2 linked regions of the Homo sapiens genome follow. The protein of the gene in region 1 purifies or fractionates together with the protein of each later gene. This does not show direct contact. Each region holds a gene or a part of one and is shown on either strand. Other genes may lie near its edges. The genes, in order: PCTP and TPPP.

Region 1 (3,151 bases):
AGAGACAAAGAATTGTCAGCTTGGAATGCCAGCCTCTCCCTGCTTGTGCCCCAGGACCCCGCCAGAATCACTCTCTGGAACTTCTGGACAATAGTCTGCTCTTAGTAGGAACAATAGTGCCTTTGGAGCCTATATTCCTCTGCTTACTGGGGAATAAGACAGACTGACCTGGCTTGGAGACAACCAGATGTGTCCAAGCCTGAGGAAAGCTTCCACTTTTGTTGTTGTTGCCCTTTTTTTTTTTTCTTTTTCTCTATAAGGGAGGGAACTGCAGTGGTAGTTTGTATCACTAGAGACTGCCCAGGAGCCTGGCATTATGGGGACCATCAGCCTGCTTTGCACAAGATCTACTACTAGAGAGCTCAACAGATTCCTTGGAAGAGTGAAAAAGCACATCAACTTTGGAGTCAAACAGACGCAATTTCAAATCCTGGCTCTGCTACTGACTGTCTTGTTTTATTTAAGGAAGCCATGCATTTCTTCCTTTTTAAAAATGAAGATAGATGTCTTCTACTGCATAGAGGGGGAGTAAATAAGACAATATTTAGGAAAAGTCTTGCCCAGTGCTCAACATTAACTAAATAATAATATATCCTGCTCCTTGATCCCCAATCCTTACCATTTTCTAATTCAGTAAAGCAAGTGCTTTCATTTCTTTGGAAGAATGTAACAATCCAGCCCAAGCCCATTTCTTGTGTTTTCTTTTTTCCAGAAACACTGTTTCAGAAACATCTTCGCTTTTTCCTAGAAAAAGCTAACATATAAGGCCTTTTTGCAACAGAAGTTCCTGTTGACTGGTCTTACTTTTGTCCTCAGTCCTACTTTTTGTCATCATCTGCAACAACATTCTGTTGAAATCCAGTTAGGGAGCCTATTCATTTTTGTTCGTCCTAAAGCCAACATTGTTTACCTTCTGCCACATCCCAAAGAATCAAGAGTGACCACTGTGAAGACATAGAAATGACAGTCTCATTTCCTTTGCAGAATGGAGTTCCTAACTTCTTGAAAGACATGGCAAGAGCCTGTCAGAACTACCTCAAGAAAACCTAAGAAAGAGAACTGGGAACATTGCATCCATGGGTTGATGTCTCTGGAAGTGCAACCACCCAATGTCTCTGGAAGTGCCACCTGGAAGTGCCACCTGGAAGTGTCTCTGGAAGAGCACCCACCACTGTTCAGCCTTCCCCTGCTGTTTCTGTCTTCAGAGGCCTACACACTACCACATCCTTTCTAAGCATGTTTGCCTGACATCCAGCTCACTCGTCTGCTTCCTTTCTCGCTCCCCCCATCCTGGGCTGGGCTGCCTTCTTCTACAGTTCAATATGGGGCAGACTAGGGAAACCTTTGCTTGCTTACTATTAGGAGGGGAAGTCTTCAGTAGGGAACACGATCATTCCATTGTGCAATTTTACGGGGATGGGTGGGCGGAGGGACACAACAAAATTTAAGAATGACTATTTGGGCGGGCTGGCTCTTTTGCAGCTTGTGATTTCTTCCAGCTTGGGAGGGGCTGCTGGAAGTGGCATTTCGTTCAGAGCTGACTTTCAGTGCACCCAAACTGGATGACGTGCCAATGTCCATTTGCCTTATGCTTTGTGGAGCTGATTAGGCTGGGATTTGAGGTGATAATCCAGTAAGTCTTTCCTCGTTCCTACTTGTGGAGGATCAGTAGCTGTTATGATGCCAGACCATTTGGAGAAGTATCAGAGGCCTGACCGGACACATAATATGACAACCACATTTTTCCTCATCATCCATGAGGAAATGGATGATTTCTCTTTTCCATATGTCACTGGGGGAAAGGCTGCCTGTACCTCTCAAGCTTTGCATTTTACTGGAAACTGAGGCGTCAAGATGGCTGTGGCAGCTAGCAAAAGCAAAGATGCTTTGTGCATAGCCTTGTGAAAAAGTATCTTTCTATGCAATAAGATGAATTTTCCTCCCAGAATATTTAGAAATGTAGAAGGGATAACAGTTCACAGCCAGGTAAAATTTAACTGGTGGCTTAATGACTCTGCACCTTTTTCTCAGGAATTCTGCCTAAGTTGTCTGCCTTTTCTACCACCAAAAAGACTTTTAGTTTTCTATGCTTTCTCCTGAATTTTGGTAGGGTAAGGTATTTCTATGTCAAAGGCACAGCCTTGATGATCTCAGGGAAAAATTTTAATCACTGTGTATAATGATACTGAACCTTGATTAATAACAGAAATTCAGGATGTAAAGCCACAGAATGGGATTTATTAATGTGGGATACCTCAGACTGTTTGTTTTCTTTCTGGGAAGAAAAGTGTGTTCTATAATGAATAAATATAGAGTGGTTTTTACTTGTCCTGTGTACCACTTCCTTCCTACCTTCTTCCTTTTGTGAGTGTGCATCAGTTAGATCTCCTTTATTTGCAAGTGATATTCAGCCTAATTTGTAGACTTAAACATAAAACATAATTTTGGGCTTACTTATATGCATGATCAGGTGTAGGTATCTTCATGTAGGGATCAATACAGGTGCTCAAACTGAGATTAGAATTCAGATCGTTTAGTATTGGTCTGCATTTCCTGGTAGCATTGTCGCTAACAGCAATAGGTAGGTTTGCATCTTCCTAGGCTCATGCCAAGCAAAACAAAAAAGACAATGTTTCTTTCTAGTAGGACCTGCACTTTCCATAACTTAGAGCACCTCTAAAACATATGCTTATCTATGCCCTGCTCATTATGGTCATCTGGATAGAATTATACAAGTAAGTGAATGCCTCATAAAATTATCATTAAAATATCATTATCAATAATGTAGCTGAAATCTATTCTAGATAAACTAAATCTGAATACTTCCTGTTAATAGAAGTCAAGTTGAAATCTTATGAATAGATTATTTGAAATAAAAGCACTGAGATTATAGTCACTGAAAGAGAATTGGCATGAAATGGTGTCATGTAAACCATTTCTTTAAATAACATTAAATAATTTGCTAAGAACTCTGAAAATACTAAGAATGCTGAGTTTCTAGGTAAGGTACTTATTTTAAAAGGTTACAGTGTTTGCTGTAATGAATGGAGTTAAGACTTTTTAGCATTTTTACTTGCTAATTTAGAGTAGTGGACAGTCCTCACGAGCTGAGGTTATGTAGGAAACTGAAAACTCTTGAGCTATAGTAAGT
Region 2 (3,318 bases), on another chromosome or scaffold:
GCATGTGTGCGTTTAGTCCATGCTCTCACCCACCTCTGGGGTTGGTTCCTGGAGCGCGAGGCGCGCGTCCCTCTCCATGCTCCTGTTCTGCTCACCTGTGGGGGTTCCCAAGTATTTTTATGAAACATTTTAATCTCACAAAGTATTGATATAGCCACTGTTAATTTGGAGTTATTGACCTATTTATTCTCTTTGCTCCACTTTCTTCACAAACCAGACATGCCATTTGAGATCACCTTTGCTTTCTGCATTTAGAATTTCTTTAAATGTCTGCTGGTGGCAAATTCTCTTTTCATTGTCCAAAAATGCCTTTATTGTATCCTCATTTTGGAAAACTGTTTCGCTGGGCTAGTATCTCAGGTTGGCATTTTTTTTATAGCAGCCTGTGATGACATTGTCCTGTTTTGGGGGCTCTGGTGGTGTTCACAGTGTTCATGTCCATTCCCCTTGAATCTAGACCCCACCCAGGGCTACACCAGTGCTAGAGCAGGACTCACACCTGACAGATGGCTGGTCCGCCTGCTCCTCCTTCACGGTCCTCCTGTCTAGATGAGGAAGCGAGAGACTCCCTCGGGAAAAGGCGACACAAGGGCCTTGGCCCTGTGAGCTTCAGCCCAGTGGAGGCACTCAGCACACTCCCCACCTGGGGCCCCTCCAGTACCTATCCCCTGTTATCACCTGTTACAGACACGTGTGCTCTGAGGAACAGAGAAATCCATGTTTTAACACCTTTATTTGTCACTTTACCAACTTGACACACAATGTTAACGACAGCAGACACAGGAGCAGTGTGCACACAGACACGAGCTGTTTCACTACAGGTTTGCAAGCCAGGCTCAACAGCAAGTCCAACAGGCAACACCACACCTCTCACCTGCAGGAGGAACAGCAGGGCCACCCCACCCCGCGGACGTCCGCGGTGAGTGCGGTTTAGACATCAGCAGAAGTGGCTTTCAGAGTCAGAACAGCCATGACGTGGACATCACCCGTCACACTGATAAAGTGATGCACTCAGTACTCCCTAATGTTAATCACACAGTGTAAAAATATATTGCACATATATATATATATATATATATATAAATTTGTTTCCCTTTCTTGAAAAAAACTTAGTACAAACTAGTAGTTACACGATCCCTTTCAAGTTTCTCTTAAGTTGTGCAGATTTCCTTTGTGGTTTGGCTTGGTTTAGTTTTTTAAGAGGTCGAAAGAAAGAAGTAAAGCATCTCGATGTGCCCAGGACTCCCCATCACATGCCCAGGGACAAACGCTGCACCCTGGACCACCAGAGCTCACAAAGTGTTCAGTAGTAAGAGGAGGAAAGATGCAGGTTCAGTGTTTGAAGGACGTTCTAGCCTATTGATAACATCACGGTCCAGCCTCATCTTCCCCCTGTGCCATCCCCTCGTGGTGTGTGCTGTGGGGTGGGAGGGTGGCCAGTGCACGCGTGATTGCCCACAGGAGGAGATGAGCTGGGCCAGTAGAGGGACAGGTAAGTGTCCAGGGCCAAGGCATCTCCATCTCAACTCCTCCCCACTCCACTTGTACAGCAGGAGCCACAGGCCTGTGTGAAAACACAGGACAGGCCCTGTGCCAACAAAACACCATTCACAAAAGCAGGCGGCCGCAGCAGCCCAGGATGGGGGCTGGGGTAGGAGGTGATGCCCACGCAGGGCTGCTGTGGTCAGCCCTGAGCTGGCATCCCTGGGGCCCGGGATGGAGTGGCACCAACAGGCAAGTGGGGCGGCCACAGGACATGATGCCAGCCCAACTCCACCATCTGCGCCCAAACTTGGACAGGATATTAGAAGGTGTAAAAGTAGTCCAGTATAAATATATATCTTCTACAATATTTTAAACATATAATTTGAACTTTAATTTTGGTAACGCTAATTGTTAGGAACACTACCTGGTTGCTTATCCTATAGCAGTAAATTAAAAATAAATAAGCACTCTGGCGTGAACAGTCTTCTCAGCGCTCTCCCTCTGCCTTTCTCCTTTCCTGATGCTGAGACACGATCAGCACTGTCCTCCCGACAGAACCTATTCCTGTGTCCTGGTGTCACCCCCAACAGAACCTGTCCCTCTCTCCTGGTGTCACCCCTGACAGAACCTGTCCCTCTCTCCTGGTGTCACCCCCGACAGAACCTGTCCCTGTCTCCTCTTGTCACCCCCAACAGAACCTGTCCCTCTCTCCTGGTGTCACCCATGATAGAACCTGTCCCTGTGTCCTCGTGTCACCCATGACAGAACCTGTCCCTGTGTCCTGGTGTCACCCCCGACAGAACCTGTCCCTGTGTCCTGGTGTCACCCCTGACAGAACCTGTCCCTCTCTCCTGGTTTGCAGGTTGTGCAGTTTGTTATTCACAAATACACATTTATTTTCTGTTGAACCGTGGTTAGTAGAAGCTAATTGGCAGTGCATAAAAACATGCAGAAGAGAACACACACCTGCCTGAATTCACAATATTCAGAAACTGACTGAGGAAGATGCACGGGTCTGTTATGTGCAGTGGGGCTGCCGTCCAAACAATGTTCTGTGTTCGGAGGCGGCACACAGATGCAATTACGGATTCCACAGACAAGTTGTAACTGACAGTGGTGACCACTATGTCCTCGTGACTTTATTTTTGCTACCCCTCCTGGCTAGGTGACAGAGATGGGAGCCGAGTGGGTGTTTTCAAAGATTCGCTTTGGAGCTGAGTGGAGAAGGGTGCTCTCCTGGCTCCCGCATGTCTGAGAAAAGCCTGAGGGCCGCTGGGGGAGGGCGTGCCTCTAACTCGTGGGCACCAACCCTGGAAGTGTGGAGGGAGAGTGGGGGCGTGGGGCCTCTCCCTCCAGGATCCCAGGGTGCTCCAGGCCAGGACGGGCAGGGTGCCACAGCAGCCTCGATCTCATTCACGAAACCCACAGGCGTGGCCTAGGGTTTGGGATGCACGCCACGATTTTCTCTCTCAGAGTGAAGGGACCACTTCTGTGAATGAGCTCACCTCCAGGGGCCAAGATGGGAGCCATGAGCCCCGCCGCTCCGGCCACTCCAGCCAGGTCTGGGAAGGGCTGTGGTGAGTCGGTGCTGGCCGTGTGGGCGAGGTGACCCGTCGGTGACAGGGCCTGCTCCCTGCGAGGTCGGGTGGTGCCCGGGCCGGGCGGAGGCTCTTCTCGTGCTCAGGGCCGGTTTCTGGTGTGCTCCCGATGCGCTTGGCTCTTTTCTCGAGGCCGTGCTTGTCTGAGGCCAACCAGGGACCAGGAGGCAGCGTCCTGGTGCCCAGCACCTCTCCTCAGTGTCCCTCGTCCCCACAGACCGGATCAGGGCCTGGC

Evidence for each region.
Region 2: the proteins of PCTP (region 1) and TPPP purify together in Homo sapiens (affinity purification with mass spectrometry; one large-scale study listed by BioGRID and IntAct). This does not show direct contact.

The regions. Positions count from the first base shown.
Region 1 is NC_000017.11:55,775,051-55,778,201, forward strand, and holds the end of PCTP (phosphatidylcholine transfer protein), read left to right. Parts: intron 1-260; coding exon of another isoform or gene 261-293; exon of another isoform or gene 294-984; coding exon 985-1,050; 3' UTR 1,051-2,324; downstream 2,325-3,151. UniProt on the Homo sapiens protein: Catalyzes the transfer of phosphatidylcholine between membranes. Binds a single lipid molecule.
Region 2 is NC_000005.10:659,148-662,465, forward strand, and holds the end of TPPP (tubulin polymerization-promoting protein), read right to left. Parts: 3' UTR 715-3,318; downstream 1-714.